2 separate regions of the Homo sapiens genome follow, and region 2 is linked to region 1. Evidence: fine-mapped expression QTL. A gene starts in region 1. The other region holds a variant in brackets. All regions are shown on one strand. Distances are between the middles of the regions.

Region 1 (11,420 bases):
AAAACTTCCTATTTCCAACTAAGAATAAACAATAAATATCTTTAAAATTTTGCTTTAAAAAGCCAGAAGAATACAATCCATTTAAACTAAGAGGAGGCTACTTTTAATGATGGTGGCAAAATCATGAAAGTTTAATGGGCATTTTTTGAAAAGGCCAAGAATTCAAACACAAAGTTGAGAATGGTTTAACTATTTCTACTGATAAATTCTAGACACTGGTTAAACATTCAGACCAAATTCCCTATAGTACTCCACTTCTCATTAGCCGGGAATTATCATCTTTTAATAGCAACTAACTAAGGTCTAGAAAAGGCCTGGAATAGTCATTATAGTTTCAAAAATTTCACATTTCCTAAGTTTACTGAAAAACTACTTTTGTATCTCTCAGTTTACTCATGTTCTAATTCTTGTTTGGCTGTTCTCTAACTTTACGGGCTTCAAAAGAAAAAGATATAGTCCTCTTGATCTATGTCAAGAGAATAAAAAAAAATTTTTTTTAACTCTGTCAGATTTTACTTGTGGAAGGTTTTATTTTAGCAAGTTCAGTATCTTTTTCATAATTTCATTAGTAAAATACTCAATGTTCAGTTATTTACAAGAGTGCTAGCTTAGATTAGCATAAGAAACACTGGTGTTTTCATAATTTTTTTTTTTTTTTGCATTTTAGACTCCCACATTAACTTGTATAGCAGAGAAATAAAATCTTAAACTGTATGCTAATAGTTATCCAAAATTTATGTTAAATGACTTTGGTTTATGGATAGAACTTTAACATTAAATGACGCTGAAAATACTCAGGCCCCATATTGGCCTTATTCTATCAACAGACTTTAATATTTTTCTCAGAAATTAGATGAGGGCATTATATTCCAAATAAAATTCTCAAATAATACAGTAAATAGAATTTTCTAAAAAATACCATTTATGACTTCTCTCTCTATATATAACATCTCAAGCACTAGAATTAACAAATGCAGAATTAATGTACATTTGTCACCTGACAAAATCTTATGTAATCTGTTTATTCTCCAGAATAATCACCACAAGTGCCATTTTGCAGGTTTTAATATTTGTTAAAAGGCATTTTTTTTTAAAAAGTTTGTATCATCTCTTCCAACAATCTGTCATTACTTTAAGAATATACCACTTTCCTTTTTCCTTTCTTACTAGATTCCAAGTTTTATATTAATGTATCCTTGATGCATGTTTCCTTTTAAGCCTGGGTCATATCTCTTGTGTGACCTTCCCAATAGTTCTTTGTACAGAAGCTATTAAGTTCATATCAGAAGAAAAACATTTCTAAAGTTAGGATATTCCTAATTATTTTTATTTTCGAAACTTACTGCTATTGGTTAGTATTAGCAGAAAAAGTAGAATATAGAATTTTTTATAAATTGAAGCTACTAAGACTTGATAGGGTCTATCTTTTCTCATAATGATAATTGATAATAAACTAAGTATAAAGTGGTTATTATTCGACTAGCAACTTCCAATTCACTCATGTTAAAGGAAACCCTATTCCTATTTTAAAAACCTCATAAACTTTAGGAAAGAATACTGAAAATTGAGTATGCTTTCTATAATTTTGCCACGCTAGATTAAAAAATAGCTTCTTATGTTTAATATATTGTTTTCCTCTAGCAAGTTTCAGTAATGAAAAGGGTTTTTTTTTCAACTAAAAATGTTTAAATTTAGAATACTTAATTTTAAAATAATGCTCTGATCATAAGTATCTATAAAAATGCCTATTATTTATAATACTTACGTCTGTGGAAGCTCGAAGCTGAATGCATATTCATGCCTTCCTGAATGAATAGTGTGGAAGCCTTCTTCGGAATTATCATCATCTAAAACAAACATAAAAAGAAAACAAAGAATTTATTATTCAACATTTACATACTCCGCAGGGTGGCATAACTTTAAAGATGCTTACATAACAATTAAGACCACAAAACAAGCTTTGGAGTCTGAGAGATCTGAGTTCTAATTCTAACTTCATCATTTCCTCTGGACAAAATAAAAATCCTGTCGTCAGCTGCCTTATCTGTAAAATGGGGATAATGAATACTCACACCCCACAGGCTTTTTATTTTTTCTAATGGAAAATGACCCAAACTGCAAAGCATCTGTTTATAAAATAGTATATATACTCAAAAGGCTCGGGTCTCACATCATGGTAAGACAATGCTATCCTTTGTCTCCAACGGTTTGCTTAAATTTATCACATTAAGACTATAATGTATCAAAGAAAAACTGTTCATGCAACCCTCTTAAAATATGTCAGTTTATAGGGAATAATAATACCAGATGTGAATAGAATAGATACTCCAAAACCACTAGAAAACCTTGTCAAATAGACGGAGTAAAAAAAAAAAAAAAAAAAGCCACACATTGATTTTAATGTCAGATTTATAACTAAAAATAATTATTTATTGAACTAAAAATAATTATTTATTGATCTAAAATGATCACAACACTCAGTTGGTCCTAGCAACGACTAAAACTTGCATAAACTATACCTTAGATAATTACAAAGAACCGCATTTAGGTGGTGTCGGCTTATAAGGAAACAATATTTTCCAACATCCTTGAAAAAAATGAAGTCTAACTATTAATAGTTTCCAGTTTCTATAAAAAAGGGATGACCTTTCATTTTACAACCAATTTTTTTGGTGAAATTATTTTTTTTCAAGTGGCATGAAAATAAATATAATCGAAAATATGGGAGGGGGTTCTAGATCATTAAAGTGCCTATTTAGCGTTTTAAATAATTACAGAAATATCTTTTAAAGTTTTCTTGGTGTAGAAACCTTTACGATTAGCCCCCAGAGTAGAAAAAACTGGCACATTATTTAACTTTCCTTCAGCAAAGTATTGGATATACACAAAAAACGTGATGCCTCCCTGATATTAAACGAGAAAAAGGGGGAAAAAAGCATGTATACGTCGATACTTTCATTTAAAAATCATGGTGATTCGCTTATGTCTCCATACAATTTTCCTCGTCCCCTGTGCAAATTCCCCTGAACGGATTTCAGAACCAAAAACTAGCTGATGAGCTGGGGGCCATTTAAATTCGCTCCCCTCGAAGGCGCCCGAAGTTCGCCTTCCTTTCCCTTTCTTCCCTCTTCGCTCCCTTTTTGTGCCAGCTCAGCAGTCTCATTGAAGCGAGCGGCGGCGGCCGCGCCGTGGTAAACAAGTGCCGGGCTGTCAATCAAGAACTAGACCGGAGCAGGAGAGGACCGGCCTAAACCGGCGCGAGCAGATCCCAGCCGGCCTGCCCGCGCGCCGCCGCCGCCGCCGCTGCCGCCCGCGCGCCCCGCTATACATACGGCATACGTCGCGCGGCGCTCGCGCCCGTGCCCGCGCAACCTAGCCTGCTGGCCGGGGGGCGGGGCGAGCGAGCCGCGGCGCTTCCGCTTTACACGCCCCAGCCGGCGACCGGTTCCATCTGGCTCGGGCCACTCTGACACCTTTAGTTTCGGCAAGGGATATTGGGGTGGCGAAGGGGAGGCGGGGGCCCGAAGGCTTCGGAAAACGATGGGGGAGGGGGCAGAGGATACCCGTCGAAGCCCCCCCCTCCCCCAACATTTCGATATTGGAATCACTTTCCTTCTTCCTCGGGCCAGCCTTTGCTCTGTCCCCTCAGGTCAACTCAAGGTAGACAGTGTGGCGACTGGAGAGGTCGGGGAACAAGCTTTGTTTCAGCTAAGGGGAAAACAAGCGTTCACAGGAGTCCCCTGACACCTCCCACTCGGAAGATAGCTAACGGGGGTCCTGCCAACCCTTCCCATCCAACTTCCATCTGAAAAGGATTTTCTGCTAAAGTTGGGTCCATGGCCATCCAGCACCTGTAAGGCCGGCAGGAGCGTCTGCCCTCTACTCAGTTAAAGCCTGAAGTCGTTTCCTTTCGATGGCCCTTAGGAGGCCCAAAAGAGGGGCGACAGAACATGATGTTGACACGGGCTGGGCGCCCCCAGAAGCCCGGGAACAAACGTGAGTACGGGCTGGGTGGGGGTCGCTCTGGAGGAACCTTTACCGGCGCACGCCGGTTTCCTAGCCTCGCCCCAGCCGCGGCGCGAGCTCACTCTCCCCACCCGCCCGCGCCCAATCCAATCAGCGCCTGCCATCGCCTTAGCAACAGGCTAACAAACCTGGCTCCGCCTATCCCGGGCGCCCGGGGCGGGGTCTCAGTTACCAGGCTAGTTTGAGAGCTCCCAGTTTCAAGTCATTGAAACTATTCCAGACTGAGCTCGTCTACGCGTTGCAGGGTTTGGGGGGCATTTTGTTGGGGGTGCAGGGCATTTAGTTTTCTTTACCACGAAATCATGGTGCAACTAATGAAATTATATTTGTCCTCACATCTCGTTGTTCTACTTTTCCCCACTGCAAGTCTTAACCCCTTGAGGAAAAATCTGTTTTCTTTCATCCGTTTCATAAAAGGCTGCAATATTCAGAAAGGTACAAACACAAAGTCATCTATCTGCTTTTCAACAAATACCAAGGCTGTCATTAGGCATTTGCATCTCCTATCAGTGTTAACACTTGGAGAGATTAATTAGTTATTTCAGGATGCAAAGTACCTGTATCTAACTACGAAAATCCTGCTAAAGAACTGAGTTCACCTTAATAGTTTCAAAAATAATGCATTAATACTGTCCCTCAAAGCATCCTTCATTTCTCACTTGCCTTAGTCATCAGCACTTCTCCAGGATGTACGTTTTTAATATAAAAAATAAGGTAAAATATGTCTCTAATTTTTTTTCTGAAAAATCGCCAACATCTGAACTAAATACTGCATTAAAAAGGAGAGGCACAAAAATTACATAACCAGTTTTAACATTATATTCTTCTTGGGCTAGGAATTAAGTCATCGCCACCACCTGACGCGTGTAACCAATCTGCTGAGAGCAGAACAAGCGCCCCTCCTCACCACCCCCCAGAACTGGTCCGAAACAGGATTGAACCGCTTCTAACAAAGGGTGGAAACTTAGAAAAACAAGCCTAGAGTCTCCTATATTTCCACAATGTAACCATTTAAACAATAGATTGGAAATCTCAGGACTCCTTCTCCTTTTGACAACCCTTTATCTCTCTCTTCTAACCAAAAATCAAATCCAGTGTGCCCTATACTTTTCAATTCCATTTGACTGGCATGGGTTTCATTGAATGCACGTTCCAAAGTTAGACATGATGCTCGGAAAAGAAAATTACTGATCCTAAATGGCTTCTAAACCTGACTCGATACCTATCATAATGACAGATAGTCATTCCTTTAAAATAAGGAATGCTGGGTGTAAATTTTTAAAGGAATGGTAAAGAATAGAGAAAAAACACGTGGGGTGTTGATACCATATGTCAAAATAAGCCACAGAAATCTTTTATGAAAGAACAGTCATCAATTATTTAAAGTCTTTTGCATTCCAATATTAAAAATGAAACACACCCATTAAGTCTCTTAAAAATGTTATTACATTTCTTGATCGAAGTTCAGTTTTTACATCTTAGGTTGCAAGTAAAAGGGCAAAAATCTAAGACTGCAGCTTTTACCAATTCATTTGAAAATATATTAGTAAAACGACTGAATTGGATTCAAACAGAATTTATAAGTAAGGTGCAAATGGACTACAAGTGCGTGTGGCACAGACCGAGCCGGGTACAGAGGTAGCTGAATAAGTGTAGTTTGCAGTCACTTTGCAGATGCCTGCATGCATTACGGCTTAACACACGATGAACGTCAAGGAGAATCCAAACCTTCCAACTTTGCTAACCTTTCTCAAACTGCTTAGTTATGCTAGGAGTAGAATCACGTTAATTCAGAAAACTGAAAAGGTACGTTTCCAAAGAAAATGAGTCCAATGACTTATGAATAACAAAAACTTACCTCTTTCGTGCCCAATTAAGATGTCTTTATGGTTGAAATACTCTACTTCTTCAGTGTAATTCTGTGTATAGGCAGTATTGGAGCCGGCGTTTCTAGATTCAGTCCAGCGTACTTTCGCATGTCCTCTTGCATGAATTTTAAGAGATTTTACTCTGATTTCCCCAGTAACTTCTAAATTTACCCTTCCTGAGACGGTATCCCCACTAGAATACACAGGGACATTGCTGTCATTAAGACAGTCAAAGCTTATTGTCAAACTCTTCACCTTTCCCAGCACCATGTTTATAACAAAATCTATAAAAATATAATGTAAGACAAAAAAGTCAAGATCGCATATAAAATGTGATCTTCACTTAACACTGATCGATATTTTTGCCGTGCAAAATGCTTGCAGGCCGGATCAGTGATTCTCTACAAATAGTTCATTGAGATTTCTTAAAAAGTCAGGGCAGCAGAGGCTGCTGCTCCGCGCTCCCGCTCGTCTCAGTGGTCTCCTTACAAAGACGGGCGGCTAAAAGCTGCCAGCTCACTTTAAGAGCAGCTTTGTGAAAAACAACCCCAGTGCGCAGGCGCAGGCCGCGGCTGCTGTCCGCCCTCCCTGCGCGCCCCCTCCCGCGCCGCGCCGCGCCGCGCTCGCTCCCTTGCCCGCTCGCTCCCGGGTACAGTAGGTGTAGAGCTAGGGGAAGGAGATACTGGAGCTGCTGGCCGGCTGAACCTGACTTCTCTTCATTGTGGGCTCCTATTGGTAGGCAGGCTACCGTATACCCTCGACGTGCTATCTGGAGCCCGTTACCGAGCGCACTCTACTAGAAAGATAATGGCAGAGTGGGGTGCGAGGGTACAAGGGCTGGGTGGGGAGTTTGCAAAGCCAAGTTAGGATAAACTGCAGCGACCAGCCCGAAGCGTGCGTTACCGGCACTGCAGCGTTTTACCAACTGCCTGGATGGGAGGAGGAAAAAGTGATGTGTGAAGAGAGATGGGGGAAGGGAGAAACCGGTTGGGCAAGCGGCCGATTGTTGAGCATAATCTAACGAATTTCCAAAGAAAACGTAATAAAACCGGACAAGAAATATTGTTCATAGACAAGAGCATACTTTGCTTGGATTTTTTTTTTTTAAACCAGTACTTTGTAGGCAGGTTGGAAATGAACTCAGTCGAGGTCAAAGGAACCTTAATCCTTTGAAGAGCGAGGTAGAGAAGCAAGTACAATGTAATCAATAGGCTTTGCTGTCTCCTCAACTTCTTTCTCCTACATTGCTTAATTAGCACCGAAAAACAACCAAGTTGTTTCCAGGATGACACGGGTGGGGGCTGGGGGAAGCTTGATCACTTCCTCGAAGGAAGAAAAAGTCCTTTTAAGACACCACCTACGGCTAGATTTGCAGAGTAAGACATGATTACAACTCCTGTGTCCAGAGGAATAAGAATAGAGTTCGGCCTAAAAAAGTACTACCTTATAAAAGGCATATGACATAGTGGTTTAGCTGACATATTGTTTGCAACAGAATCGGAAAATCTTTGTTAGAAATTAGTGAAGCGCATAAAATTGTTTTTAAAAAGCATGATTTGGTATATAAATAGGGATTTAACTGTGTGAAGCTTTAATTTTCGGCCGAGAGCCTTGGACCATTTAACGTAGTAATTCTCATGATACATCTTAAATATAGGTACATTTCTCTTTTTATTGTGAATGTTTGGTAAAAAATAGCAGTGCTTTCGTCACATCACACTGGGATTCAGAGCATAACAGCATAAACTCATCTAGATTACTGGCAATCAACAGAACTGCCTTACAAGAGAAATGTAGAAAGAAAAAATATGAATCTGGTGCTCTCTCTATATATATATGTATGACCAAAAATACCTTGGAAGATTTTTGGCTGTCCGTGTCTAAACGTTTTAGATTCTTTTGCGTAGTGTATATGGATAGGTTGAGCCTATGAGTCACAATAAACTAAACTTATTGGTCTTGCTGTTTTATTTCAAAAGAAACTAAGCTTTTGGGGGTTGGATTTTAGTTGACAAGGCAATATCTTGGACTCAACAGCAATATATAAAGAGTATAAATATGCAAACTAGACAATTAATGAGCAGGCCATTTATTTCAGAGTTTAGATCGCTATGCATAAAATTATAAATTTGCATATTTAAGTGGGAAAAACAGTCTTATCTTTTCCCTACCTCTTGGTTGACACCTGGTGGAAATTCTAGGTAAAGTACCTGGGGCCTTGTACTAGCTTTGATTACAGATACTACTTGTGTTTTTTCTCCACCTAGTGGTAGAAGTGGTGAATTTCCTAGAATGACAGCTTTTCCTCAGCATAAGGTCAATGATATTTAATAAGCATTCGAAAACCACTGAGCAAGGAATGGATTTAAAAGTGTAGTCCATAATGAATACATAAATTCATTGCACATTTGTGTCTACATTTATGTTAAAAATTATTAAGGGTTAGTGAACAGCTGAATTCGGATTTTTTTAGTAAAATTTATTTAATTAGAATATAACTCATTTCAGAAAAAATAAGAATTAGCTATATAAATACACCAGAATTGCATTTAATAAAAAAGAAGTCTAAGAAATTTATTTGTAGTTTGGAAAATTGTTTTAAAATATTAAATGTTTCATTCCTGTCACTGTGTAGTACATTATTCTTTGTGTTTGAAGCTTTCAGGATCTTTTGAATAGTTGTCTTTATTATTTATTTTGCTATTTTTAAAATTTTCTTTTTACTGTGTCTTCTTAAATACTTAGGTAACTGGCAAATTTCCAAGAAATTCTTACCAGCTGCCATTTTCATTATATTTTTATTTTTTGAGATGGAGTCTCACTCTGTTGCCCAGGCTGGAGTGCAGTGGCACAATCTAGGCTCTCTGCGGCCTCTGCCTCCCGGGTTCAGGCGATTCTCCTGCCTTAGCCTCCGGAGCAGCTGGGATTACAGGCACGCACCACCACCTCTGGCTACTTTTTGTATTTTTAGTAGAGACAGGGTTTCACCATGTTGGCCAGGCTGGTCTTGAACTCCTAGCCTCAAGAGATCCACCCGCCTTGGCCTCCCAAAGTGCTGGGACTATAGACATGAGCCGCTTGCGCCTGGTCTCGCTTTATCTTTTCAATTCTTAAAAACAAAAACAAAAACAAAAACGCTTGGACCAAATTTTGAATGTTTTCTCTTGTCGCTTTCATAACTTCCCCCTTTCAGATTTTTTGTCTAAATAGCTACTCCTTAGACAGCTTGAAATGCTGTACTGTAGACATTATCTTGGGCTTCTCAGCTTGCTTCACTGGGCCATTATTGTATTTTGTATTATATTTAAACTATTCGTCTTTACCATCAAGGCTCTTTCCTACTTCTCCCCAGCCTACGTCTCATATGCCATCTCCTCCTACTCATCTGCTAACTCTCTATAATCCTGTCAAGTACATCTTCTGTCCCCTTTGTTAGCTTGTCTCACTGTTGCCAGTATGCAGTTACATGTGCTTTTGGTGCCCAGAATAACATCCCACTACTATGTTATCTCCTTTGCTTTTTTCTAATCCCTCCACTAGATGCAGTTGGCACTACTGAGTAAAATTCCAACTAGACTGAATAACTAGCTTCCCTTCCCCTTTCATTGCTTCTTCAGAGCTTAAGTAGGAATCTCTTTTTATATTAGCTTTTGAGTCAAATGGCTCTTTCACCTTAATATATTAAAGTTTGAACTCAATCTCAAGAACTCTATCAAAGACTGATAAATGATCATTGCTGTCAAGTTGTATGATATTGAGGAGATATGTTAAGATTACTGCCAAGTTTGGAGTTTTTTGCATATTATATCAACATGCTCAATATTTTTATTTTTAAAAAAAAAGGAAGCCATCTCAACTGGAAGTTTTGGTGTTTGGTTGAAAAAAAAAAAAACCTACCAGTAGTCAGAATCTGTTTCATAAAGAAAAATATGAAATCTATGCTTAATCTATTTTAACTAGCAGCTGATAGGCTCGAGTGCTATGGGACTAAGGGGGATTTTTTTCCTTTGGTCTTAATTCTGTATTTCAAGATTTTGTAACTCTGACTTAACTCTTTAATATCGTCACAGTGCAGCAAATTTGGCATGCAGACTGGACAGAAGACTTGCTGTATTATTAGCAAAATGAGTAGTATTTGTTTTTTAGCTTTGAGAGCTATTACAAACATAACGCATATTATGTTTGTTATGTTCTTCATACTTAATAGACTTTTAAATATGTTATGGATTTTGTGATGAAACTCACTATCAAATTTGGATTCTGATATCCTTCATTAATAAATAGTATAATTTGTGTTATGTGAACACCATTTAATCTGTTATATTTTATTTCTTGATTAAAAGAAAATCACCCATAATTCTACTGTCCGTCCATTCAGAGACACCACTGTTAACATTTTGGTGTATTTCCATCCAGATGTACAACTAAAGAAGAGCATTGCCAGTGAAGCTATGGCAGTGCATATTATCATGTAGAAGATGAGTTGGTAAAGTTTATTCATCTAAGCTCAAATGGCATCTGGTCTACAGAAAGAATTAGGAATGCTAAATTTCTTTTCTGAACTACTTTATAAATTTTGACTTTTGACTATGCACAACTTTATATAATGAGGGTAAAATTTTATTTGCTGTAATAAAATATTTTCTGGCTGAGTGTGGTAGCTCATGCCTGTAATCCCAGAACTTGAGAGGCTAAGGTGGGAGGATTGCTTGAGTCCAGTGGTTTGAGACCAGTCTGGGCAACATAGCAAGACCCTGTCTCTACAAAAAATACAAAAATTAGCCAGGTGTGGTGGCATGTGCCTCTAGTCCCAGCTATTCAGGAAGCTGAGGTAGAAGGATCACTTGAGCCTGGAAGGTTGAGTCTGCAGTTAGCTGAGCTCGTGCCATTGCACTCCAGTCTAGGTGACAGAGTGCGACCCTGTCTCAAAAAAATTTTTTTTAAATTTTTTTTCAAACATTTGATTATTTTATTTTGAGACAGCTCTGTTGCGCAGCTGGAGTGCAGTGGCGCAATCTCAGCTCACTGCAACCTCTGCCTCCTGGATTCAAGCCGGGATTACAGGCCGTCATCACCATACTCTGCTGATTTTTGTATTTTTAGTAGAGGCAGGGTTTCACCACGTTGGCCAGGCTGGTCTTGAACTCCTGGCCTCAAGTGATCTGCCTGCCTTGGCCTCAAAAGATGCTGGGATTACAGGTGTGGGCCACCGTTCCTGGCCAACATTTTGATAATTTTATATAGGATATGTAGCTTATATAGCATAGCATATCTACTTTGAAATATTTTACTCTCCCAGGGATGAAAGGGCTGAAGAGGCCCATTAAAGTCATTAAGTCAACTCCCTGCCTTTAAGCAACCTGAGAACCCATTCTATTTTTGTTTTTATTTTCTTATTTATTTAAATTTTAACTTTCATTTTAGATTCAGAGGTACATGTGCAGGATTGTTACATGTGTATACTGCGTGATGCCGTGGTTTGGGGTATGATTGATCTCATAACCTGGGTAGTGAGCACAATACCCA
Region 2 (11,420 bases), 72 kb before region 1:
ATCTACCTGCCTCAGCCTCCCAAAGTGCTGGGATTACAGGCAGGAGCCACCGAGCCTGGCCTATTATTCTCATTTTCAAAAGAGTCACACAACTAGTAAATAGAAGGGGTACGATTGAATCTACCTCTTGATAGTGCTTTGGTCTTCCCCTTAGCACACCGTCCTCTTATTTTGGAGTTTCTCTTATATATCATAAGCCCTCAAGAAATATACACGGGATAGCCGGGTGTGTTGTCAAGCCTGTAGTCCCAGCCACTCAGGAAGCTGAGGCAGGAGGATCACTTGAGCCCAGGAGTTCAAGGCTACAGAAAGCCATGATCTCCATGATCGAGCCACTGCAATCCAGCCTCGGTGACACAGTGGATAAAAAAGGAGAGACAGAAATGTACACAGGAGGCCACTGAATTGTTTAGACCTGGAGATAGGCCTTTGCCTAGGTTCAACTGTGACACTGGGCAAATTACATAACCTCCCTCCCACCACATGCCTCAGTTTTCTCATCTGTGAATTGGAAATTCATAGTATTTACCTGTAGTACACATTGTAGTTGACTCCCCAAAATTCAATCTATTCCTCTTCCACTTTATAGCAATCAGTGTGGTTCAAGGAATTGCCACAGCTCTGAGAGTAAATTCTAATTAATTCAAATCAATTCAGATAACCCTAATCCTCTGTATGAGCCTTAGTTGATTACACAATAGTATTCCTTCCCACCTCCCAATAGCTACTGTTTAGTAGCTAAGCAACTGACTAAAGTTAAGCTAACTAAAGTTATAAGGAGGAGAAAGATTTTTTTTTTCACTTTTTTCATTGTTTGTAGAGGCATTCTCTCTCCTTTGCTCAACATAAATAAGGAGGTAGGGTCTGATGGCCCAACCTACAGAGAGGAGTTGATGTGAAGAGGAATCCAACACTGGATGTCAGGACAGAGGCAGAACCTGGGGGCCTGGAGACAAGGCAGAGATACAGGATTCATCAGCCAAACCTGAAGGTGCCTTCTCTCTAGACTCTCTGTTATGTGAGTCAAAAAATGCCCCATTGTTTTAGTCAATTGGAGTTTGTTTTTTTTTTTCTTCCTGTAACTTATAATCAAACACTCTGATAACCTATGACAAAGGATTAGTATACAATTAAATGAAGTAATGCATAAAGAGGTTGGGCATATAATAAAGACTTACCTCATGTGAGCTAAAACCACTATCAAGGCAGTTTCTAGGACCAAGAGCACAAGTGACCTTAAATGCCACTGAAAGCTCCCTTGGAGGTGTTCTCACCAGGAGGATTAGAGAAGCCAAAACAACCAGGTGAATATCTCTGTCAATGATAGACAACTTGGCTATAACAGGAAAAGATTCTAGAATTTATGGGATTATGGAACAATAAATAGAGTTAACTTTAGAAAGGAGATTTACAAAATAAGTAGCGGGTATGGATATTGCTAGTCCGTAGCTGATTAAGGCTCTGATTAAGTGAATTGCCCCAAGTCTCAGAGCAGACATAGGCCTAGTCCAAACTTAGAGCTCATATTACTTGCAGTGGATGTTTGTTCTCTTGGCTGTCCAGCAGGCCACCTTTTCCTTCAGGACACTGCTCTCCCACTGCATTTCACATGTGACTCGTTTGGGGCTGCCAAAATATATTTGGTTATCTTTTTTTTTTTTTTCAGTAAGCTAATACAAAATTACTGTTTCTTCAATAATTACTTTGCATTTATTGTCATCATTTCACTCCCAAATGTATCAAAATTAAAGTTTAAGAGGGAGGAAAAAAGGATAAGTAGAAGATCCTGATTACCTTTTAGTCATAGATAGTTTCATTATGTTATCTTTTAGGGTCTGGAATACACTGACCAGTGTATTAGACAAAATTTTATGAGAATTGGTTAAAGATATAGGGAAGAAATGTATTTGGAAAAAAACAAACCAAACCAAACCAAAACAAAACAAAAACCATTATTTTGAGAGTAAATACTTGGGGGGAAGAAGCTTGCAAGCCACCCGAATATGGCCTGGACTCTGGCGTGTGTGTGCGTGCTGGGGAGTATCTTGGTGTTGGACTCTGGCATGTGTGTGCGTGCTGGGGAGTGTCTTGATGGTGATGTTGTGTCATTGCTTCATTTTTGGCACTCAGTCACTACTCAAGAAAACCAGATTGAAAATTTGGAATCTGTGCTTCAGTGGATTGAAACTGGCCTCCAGTCACTAAGGAAAAAATCAAAACAAAACACACAAGAATTTAGAGAGAATATTTTTCTGCCAAAAAATAATTTTTCCTTTATGCTATTTCTTATTTGGGTCAATACTCCAATGGAAAAAATAGATAGATTGGTCAAGAGTTCAATATAATTTTCTGTGACATTTGAACTAAAGTAACTCATAAAAACTTAAACACAGGAAATTGTATCCTCTCCTGCTGATGTATGTGTGACTATTTGTCTCTCTTAAAAGAAAAAAGTAGAAGAAGAGAATTAATTGAATGGTATTTTGTTTTACTTGAGATGTTAAACTAATGTCAAACTAATTTATTTATTCAATAAATATTTATTAAGCACCTACTACATGCTGGTACTACAAGCCAGGTATAGATGCTTGGGATGTATTAATGAGCAAAACAAAACCAGTAGCAAACTTGTACACGCAGATAAGGGTTTCAAATATTGTTGGCATGGGCCAGGTGCAATGGATCACACCTGTAATCCTAGCACTTTGGGAGGCTCTTTAAATAGAGACCCCCATCTCTATTTAAAGAAAAAAGAAAAAAAATTATTGTTGGCACAGTCATAAAAATGGGAACAGTAGACACAGGGGAATACAAGATTGGGGAAGGGAGTGAAGTAAATGTTAAAAAAACTATCTGTTGGGTACTATACTCACTACCTGGATGACAGGTTGGATTCATGCATACTCCAAAACTCAGCATCATGCAATATACCCGGGTAACAAACCTGCACATGTATCCCCTGATTCTAAAATAAAAGTTCAAAAAATAAAAATAAAATAAAAATCATTGGGCTTCTGAGACTCATTTGTTAACTAATTTATTTTCTTGCTATTATTGCTATCATAATGCTTGGCTAAATAGCTGTTATAATTGCCTCAATTTTGAAAATATCAGGTTTGTTCGTTTGTTTGTTTTTGAGATGGAGTTTTGCTCTGTCACCCAGGCTGGGGTGCAATTGAGCAATCTCGGCTCACTGCAACCTCTTCCTCCCAGGTTTAAGCTATTCTCCTGCCTCAGCCTCCTGAGTAGCTGGGATTACAGGTACAAGCCACCAAGCCTGGCTAATTTTTTGTATTTTTAGTAGAGACGAGGTTTCACCATATTGGCCAGGCTGGTCTCGAACTCCTGACCTCCAGTGATCTGCCCGCCTCAGCCTCCCAAAGTGCTGTGATTACAGGCATGAGCCACTGCTCCCGGCCTCAAAATATCAATTAGAATCTAGCTTCCTGCCCTTTGTTGAGCCAAATGATATGATAGGTGAGGAGAACTGGGAAACTTAGAGGAGGTTACGTAGATCTTTACAAAAACAGAGGGGCTGACTCTGGGATAATATGGAGAATACTGGGGAAGAAAAGTATTATTCAAGTGAGGAAGAATCCACATAAAAGAAGAGATTGGGATTTCTTCTTTTTCTTACTTTCTTTCTTTTTTTTTTTTTTTTTTGAGACAGTCTCACCCAGGCTGGAGAGCAGTGGCGTGATCTCGGCTTGCTGCAACCTCTGCCCTGCCAGGTTCAAGCAATTCTCCTACCTCAGCCTCCTGAGTAGCTGGGATTACAGGCACACACCACCATGCCTGCCTAATTTTTGTATTTTTAGTAGAGATGGGGTTTCACTATGTTGGCCAGGCTGGTCTTGAACTCCTAACCTCAAGTGATCCTCCCACCTCGGCCTCCAAAAGTGCTGGGATTACAGGTGTGAGCCACCGCCCCTGGCCGACAATATCTTCTTGACAGAGGATTTCAACTGGAGGTCAGTTTAAGATTTTTACAATTGTCAAAAGAAGAGCAGGGTTTAAAAAGGCTGAGATACACTGAGCCATAGAATTATATCATTAAACATATGGCCATTGTCATACCTTGGAAAAATTGCTGGCTCTATCAGGTGCAACCTAAGTTATAGTAGTAGAAGTAGTAATGGTTTCAGTGTGTTGTCCAGGGTTTTTTTTTTGTAAAAAAAAGTAGTAATGGTAATAATAATGAAAGAAATAGTAGTAGTAATGACTTCCACTTACAAAAAGCTTACTGTTGGCCAAGCACCATTCTAGACAGTATTTCACTTTGAAAATGTCAATTATAATCTAGTTTCCTGTATCTTTATGAAATATTATTACTATTATTATTATTTTTAAGGCAGGGTCTCACTCTGTCATCCAGGCTGGAGTGTAGTGGGGCAATCATGGCTCACTACAGCCTCAACCTCTGAGGCTCAGGCAATCCTCTGGCCTCGCCTCCTGCATAGCTGGGATATAGGCAGGGTCTCCCTTTGTTGCCCAGGCTGGTCTCGAATTCCTGGACTCAAGCAATCCACCCACCCTGGCCTCTCAAAGAGTTGGGATTATATGCATAGGCCACCATAACTAGCCTAGTTTTCTGGGTTTTGTTAGTCAAATGATGATAGGTGAGGAGAACTGAAGAAATTTACAAGTTACATTGATCTTTATGAAAACAGGTGGGCCGACTCTGGGATAATTTAAGTCACAGCTCTTCTGTGGGGTGATTAGATTACTTGCACAACATTACAAAGATCTTCATCTATTCTTGGATGAATCTGTTGGGCATGGACCACTAGAGGAATAATAGATGCTCTATCATTAGGGATTCTAATCTACTCTGAGGAGAACAAAGAGCCTTTTACTCTCAGAATCAATTCTCAGGACCTCTACCTAGTTCAGAAGAGGCCTCCTCTGGTTAAGAGACCACATGCTGGCCAGGTGCGGTGTTCACGCTTGTAATCCTAACGCGTTACGAGGCCGAGGCAGGAGAATTGCTCGAGCCCAGGATTTCAAGACCAGTCTGGCCAACAGAGTGAGACAATATCTACAAAAAAAAATTTAAAAATTAGCTGGGTGTGGTGGTGCACCCCAGTGTACACACCTGCAGTCCCTACCTTGGGAGGTCGAGGCTGCAGTGAGCTGTGGTTAAACCACCGCTCTCCAGCCTGGGCAACAGAGCAAGACCCTGTCTCAAAAAAACCCCCAAACATATGTAAGCATATTCATCTACAAAAAATTGTTTTAAAGTTAAAAAATAAAAACAAAAATAAAATAAACAACAACAATGAAAAGAAAACAACCAAGAGACCCCATGTGTCCTGAGGTCCTGAGGTACTGGAGAGTCTCTAGACCCACCTAAGAGCAGAAACTTTTAGTCTATTTGAAACTCTAATTACAGAAGGAAACAAGTACCTTGGTGCTTTTGTCTTTGCTTGCAAATACAACAAAAAACTAATGGTAACTTTCTTTCTTTCTTTCTTTCTTTTTTTTTTTTTCTGAGACAGAGTCTCACTCTGTTGCCCAGCCTGGAGTGCAGTGACATGATCTCAACTCACTGCAGCCTCCGCCTCTCGGGTTCCAGCGATTCTCCTACCTCAGCCTCCCAGGTAGCTGGGATTACAGGCACGCACCACCATGCCCTGCTGATTTTTGTATTTTTAGTAGAGATAGGGTTTCACCATGTTGGCCAGGCTGGCTTACGAACTCCTGACCTCAGGTGATCAGCCCGCTTAGGCCTCCCAAAGTGCTAGGATTACAGGCGTGAGCCACCGCACTGGCCGTAATTTCTTTTCTCTTCCTTTCTCTGCTTCTTTCTTCTCTTCTTCTCTCCCTTCTTCCTTTCCTTCCGCCCTCCTTTCTTCCTTCTCTCCTTCTTTCTTTTCATGTATCTATTCAACAAACAAGTATTTAGAGCAGGAGTGTTCAATCTTTGGTTTCCTTGGGCCACATAGAAGAATTGTCTTGGGCCACACATAAAATACATGAACACTAACAATAGCTGATGGACTAAAACACATACACACAAATCTTATAATGTTTTAAGAAAGTTTACAAATTTGTGTTTGGCTGCATTCAAAGCCATCCTGGGCCACATGTGGCCCGTGGGCCTTGGGTTGGACAAGCTTGATTTAGAGCCTCCTTTATGCAACGCCAGGTGCTAGATGCTGGGGCTGCATGGTGAACAGAGGAAGGCCCCTGCCCCGGGAGACACAGCTTGATTCCCTTATGGTGTAGAACACATGAGCCATGAGGTCAGGAGCTGTGGGGTCTTGTTCACCACTGTACCCTCTACCCCTACCTAGCACAGCACATGGCAATAAGTACATGCTCAAAAATACTCTGAGTGAGTGAATACAAGTTGAGTGCTGCCACACTGATTAAAGGGTGCTCTTGAAGTCCCTCAGCTGGTAAATGCCACCCTGCAGACTGCCCAAGTTCCCCTCAGGAAAAACAGAACCAGTGTACATTCAGATCTTAAGAGTGGTCATCCGGAATACGTACCTTATGAAAAAGTAAGGATATTCAGGTTCAGTAATGATATACTTGGTTTGCAAATAACACACGTTCGTTTTCATGTTGCTAAAGACTCCTTGCTAGGAAACGAAACACTTGTAATTTAATATGCAATGTTCTCAAGAGTCTGAGGCCAAACCACCTCAAGCTGTGAATGCCTTGGCTCTGAAGAGCCAGTCAGGGTCAGGGCAGGGCAGCACTTGGCCTGATGCTCCTCCAGAATAAACCAAACAGCCACAGGAAGTGGTTTCTGTGATTCAGTAGGTGGCACACTTCCTTTTGAGTCAGAACTGAATCACAGCTGTGAGAGGCGAAAAATACCTATTTCTTTATCCCATACTTTTTCCCTATTCCCAGTGGTAAATTTATCACAGACTGTCATATAATGTATCCTGTTTAGTTCCGCGTATTTAAGCAAACAAAAAAAATTTGGCAAATCAACTACGGGGA[G/A]GCAAGAAAGGAGGGGAAAACACAGCCGACTGGAATTAATCCAAACGTCATTATGTCGTCACAGGGCCATATTCTCAGAGGTGATTGAAAGAATTGCCACAGTGATTTTGCTGGGGTCATTCAGGCCCCTGGTTCTCTCAACTGGAGTCTGACCCATTTCCAGTGAAAGCAGTTAGATCACACTTACATAAACTGTGTTGCTTCAAATGGGCCTGCCCTCCTCTTCACTCACTGACCCTGGCTTGCTTCTTGGCATGTCTGCTGGAAGGCCATTCTCTGTCTGTCCCAGGCATGGCCCTAGTTCAGCTGCGGGTGAAATTATCCTGTTCTGAATGTACTGAATGCTGCTGGCAATGCTGTAAATTGTTGTGAGGCTTAAGGAAAAACCCTGTAGATATCAACAAGTCATAAAAACAGGCGTATTTTCTCTTCGTCTCTTTCCCACTGTGTGTTTTATTCTTCAATATTAACAGTTCTGGGAATGTAAATGTATTTAACTATATTTTCCTCTGATGAACTAGATTTTAGTATATAATTTGTGGCTTCCTTCCATACCAATTTGTTCATATTGATAGCATGCTTCAGAACAAAGCTTCAGAGCTCAGGCTATACATCCTATAACACTCTTGGAAGACCAGTAACCAGACTGGAACCAGAAATCTTATTGCCATGTTAATATGTCATTTTCCTTCTGTGAAATATTCCAATAATGTAAAGAATGCAAGATTCAAAGTCACATAGACCCATGTACACGTTCAATCTACACCAAAGTTTGTGGAGCTGTGTGACCTTCAATAAGTCTCTTAACCTCTCTGAGCCATAATTTCCTCAGTCTGAAAAATGGGATGCTAACATAAGGCCAACATTACAGTGAGAACTAAATAAAACTTTTACATAGTGTCTAGGACAGCTCCTAGCTCATATTTAGTGTTTAAAATAAGCCTCTGATCTTTCTCTTTATTTACAATACCTTTTCATTGGGAGATGAGGACAGCATTTGGACACAACTGTACAGGCACGCTAAGTCTCATCCTTCCAAAGACGTCAGTCACATTCAGCCCCTTTAGCAGTTTCATCAACAGCATGTATAGCACATGTGATAGCAAACAGCAAGTTGGATTCCTTAATAAAGCAGTAAAGAAGGTCAGCCAGGATGTAGGCTTTAAAGCCAAGGCCAGCTCTTCTGGGCAGGACAGTTGTGGCTGATGTATGACAGCCAAATGTAATGAGAGTCCTCATTTGACATATTGAAGCGAGCACCTCAAGGATGGGCAGGGAAAAGAACCATCAGCAGTACTCACCACCAGAGCAGCAGTGAGTGCCCAGGTCAAACTGGACAAGGGCTGGCAGACAGGTGGAAATGTGAGTACATCGTTAGATTTGAAAAGGCCTTTGGCAGGGCACAGTGGCTCACGCCTGTAATCCCAGCATTTTGGAAGGCCAAGGCGGGTGAATCATGAGGTCAGGAGAACGAGACCATCCTGGCTAACACGGTGAAACCCCGTCTCTACTAAAAATGCAAAAAATTACCTGGGTGTGGTGGCGGGCGCCTGTAGTCCCAGCTACTCAGGAGGCTGAGGCAGGAGAATGGCGTGAACCCGGGAGGTGGAGCTTGCAGTGAACCGAGATCGCGCGCCACTGCACTCCAGCCTGGGCGACAGAGCGAAACTCTGTCTCAAAAAAAAAAAAAGAAAAGAAAAGCCCTTTTAAAATGTCCATCCTCCCATAACCCTTTGAAGCCTCCCACGTCCCCCCAGTTCCTCCCAAATGGCATATAAAAAGGGTGATGGCTTTTAGACAAAGGCAGTAGTACTCCCCAAACAGTTAAGGTCCAGAACATCATCTTGTATATACCTGTCTTAGAGCTATCACGTTGTGTACTGGAGTTTCCTGATTACATGACAGACTCCTCTGCTAGACAAACTCCTGAAGACAAGGAGGGGTTCTTATTCATCCTTTAGCCAAACCTTACCTGTAGCTCAGCATGTAGCCCATGGTAGATGCTGAACCAATTTTGTTAACGTGAGAGAAATACAAGAAAGCCAAGTCAGAAATACCATTGTTGCTGTTAGAAAACTTCAAAGAGGAATTTGTGGTCTCTGGTGCCAAGGTCCCATAAGAGTTCCAGCTGGGTGAGCTTCTTGTGAGGAAAGGAGCCAGAAGTCAGAACACATAGTGTGACAATATGAGAGAAAAGAGGATGAAAGCTGTTCTTAAATTGCACCTGTCTAAGGCAATCCGAGCTTGACACATGGTTTCTGGAGGTCTGGGCATTGTCTGAGTGGAGTGTTGATTGTATGTCTCCTGGAGCCTTCTGTTTAAATAACTGCCAGAGCAGGATGACTCAGCAGCCGGAGGATGAGATGCTCTTGATCTGCCGTCCTCTTTAAGTGACAAATCACATTGCCCTGGGTGTCTGTGGCAATCTCTGATATGACACACTCCTTCCTGCCAGCCCATCAACCAGGGTGGCAAGTCACAGTTACTAATCTGGAGACGGCTGAAAATTGCTGACAGGCAAGATCCCATGCTCCAAGTGTAGAGAATCATCTTTAAAATGAACTCTTGTCAATCTTGTCAATAGATTTTCTTTTTTTTTTTTCTTTTTTGAGATGGAGTCTCACTCTGTAGCCAGGCTGGAGTACAGTGGTGTGATCTTGGCTCACCGCAACCTCCACCTCCCGGGTTCAAGTGATGCTCCTGCCTCAGCCTCCCCTGGTAGCTGGGACTACAGGCGCATGCCACCACACCCAGCTAATTTTTGCATTTTTAGTAGAGACGGGGTTTCACCATGTTGCCCAGGCTGCTCCGGAACTCCTGACCTTAGGTGATCCGCCCACCTCAGCCTCCCAAAGTGCTGGGATTACAGGCGTGAGCTACCACGCCCAGCCTAGATTTTGTTACTGAGACTGAGTCTCACTCTGTTGCCCAGGCTGGAGTGCAATGGTGTGATCTTGGCTCAGTGCAACCTCTGCCTCCTGGGTTCAAGCAATTCTCTTGCTTCAGCTTCCTGAGTACCGGGGATTACAGACGCCTGCCACCACACCTGGCTATTTGTATTTTTAGTAGAAACGAAGTTTCGCCATGTTGGCCAGGCTGATCTCAAACTGCTGACCTCAAGTGATCCGCTCGCCTCGGCCTTCCAAAGTGCTGGGATTCTAGGCATGAGCCACGGCACTCAGCCTTGTTTCTGAAATGTAGAGACTGATTTTACATTTCTAGTCTGTCTCCATATCAAAGACTCCCTATTGTCTTCAGGATAAAGTCGAAATTCAATATCCTGACCATTAGGGTCCTATAGGAACTTATCTATACCTACCTTCCTAGCATAATAGAATCTTAACTTGTTTTGCTTTTTTTTCTACTTGATATCGGCTTACTTCTGTTTGTTTCTTTGTTTTTGTCCCTGGCAGATAAATGGTGACAGGACAAAGCTTTAAGAACGTGGCCTAGAGGCCAGGTGTGGTGGCTCACTCCTATAATCCCGGTACTTTGGGAGGCCGGAGCATGCAGATCACTTGAGATCAGGAGTTGGAGACCAGTCTGACCTAACATGGTGAAACCCTGTCTCTACAAAAAATCCAAAAAATCCAGATGTGTTGGTGCACTCCTATAATCCCAGCTACTCGGAGGCTGAGGCAGTAGAATCGCTTGAACCTGGGAGATGGAGGTTGCAGAGAGCCCAGATCACCCCACTGCACTCTAGCCTGGGTGATGGAGCGAGACTCCTTCTGAAAGGAGAAGAAGGGGAAGGGGAAGAGGAAAAAGGGGAAGGAGAAGAAGGGGAAAGGGAAGGGGGAAAAAAAGAAAAGAGAAAAGTGGCCTAGGAGGAAATCCTACCTAGTAGCTATTTCCTGAAAATTGCAGAAGTTACCATTATTAAAATTTAGTAGGCTGGGTATGGTGGCTCACACCTATAATCCTAGCACTTTGGGAGGCCGAGGTGGGAGGATCTCTTGAGCTCAGGAGTTTAAGACCAGCTCAGGCAAGAGTGACACCCCTGTCCTTACAAAAATATCAAAAAATTAGCTGGATATGGTGGCATGCACCTGTGTTCCCAGCTACATGGGAGGCTGAGGCTGGAAGATGACCTAAGCCCAGGAGATGGAGGCTGTGGTGAGCCATGATCATACCACTGCACTCCAGCCTGGGTGACAGAAAGAGACCCTGTCTCAATATAAGTAAATAAATAAATAAATATAAAATTTAGTAGCACAGTACTTTCATGTTGGTCATTAAAGAGCAGTATTCTCTAGATTTTTTTGTTTGACAAATGTTGGTCAACTTTCAAGTAGGGATTCAAGGATAGCTTAGATACGAGACTCAAAAACTATACCTATAGGAACAGAAAACTTAAATTTGTGATTTGGACTAGCTGCTCTGTGCTATGCCCGAAATAAGCTAAATAGGTTTCTAACTTTTTTGTTTGTTTGAGATGGAGTCTCGCTCTGTCACTCAGGCTG

Alleles and levels. Positions count from the first base shown, and alleles are read on the strand shown. Sizes are in standard deviations (SD) of each study's normalised expression.
For the expression in monocytes after R848 of the gene that starts at base 6,389 in region 1, A is the high allele of the variant in region 2 and G is the other (small effect, 0.38 SD a copy in Quach 2016).

The links. PIP is the estimated chance that this variant, and not a neighbour inherited with it, causes the effect.
Region 2: its variant is fine-mapped to the expression of ARRDC3 in monocytes after R848 (Quach 2016, PIP 0.95).

What each region holds. Positions count from the first base shown.
Region 1 is chr5:91,376,929-91,388,348 of GRCh38, forward strand. ARRDC3 (arrestin domain containing 3) reads right to left here and starts at 6,389. Exons shown (of 8, transcript NM_020801.4): 1 at 5,885-6,389; 2 at 1,766-1,847. The coding sequence starts at 6,164. It overlaps ARRDC3-AS1 (ARRDC3 antisense RNA 1), which reads left to right and starts at 3,419. Exons shown (of 3, transcript NR_027435.1): 1 at 3,419-3,996. RefSeq lists silencers at 3,281-3,460, 4,081-4,150, 6,296-6,605 and enhancers at 6,459-6,976, 6,856-7,155.
Region 2 is chr5:91,305,151-91,316,570 of GRCh38, forward strand. LUCAT1 (lung cancer associated transcript 1) reads right to left here and starts at 9,252. Exons shown (of 5, transcript NR_103548.1): 1 at 8,930-9,252; 2 at 8,488-8,627; 3 at 7,928-8,079. RefSeq lists enhancers at 6,126-7,325, 6,688-7,232, 8,677-9,876, 8,764-9,551. The variant G/A (reference allele first, on the strand shown) is at 6,958.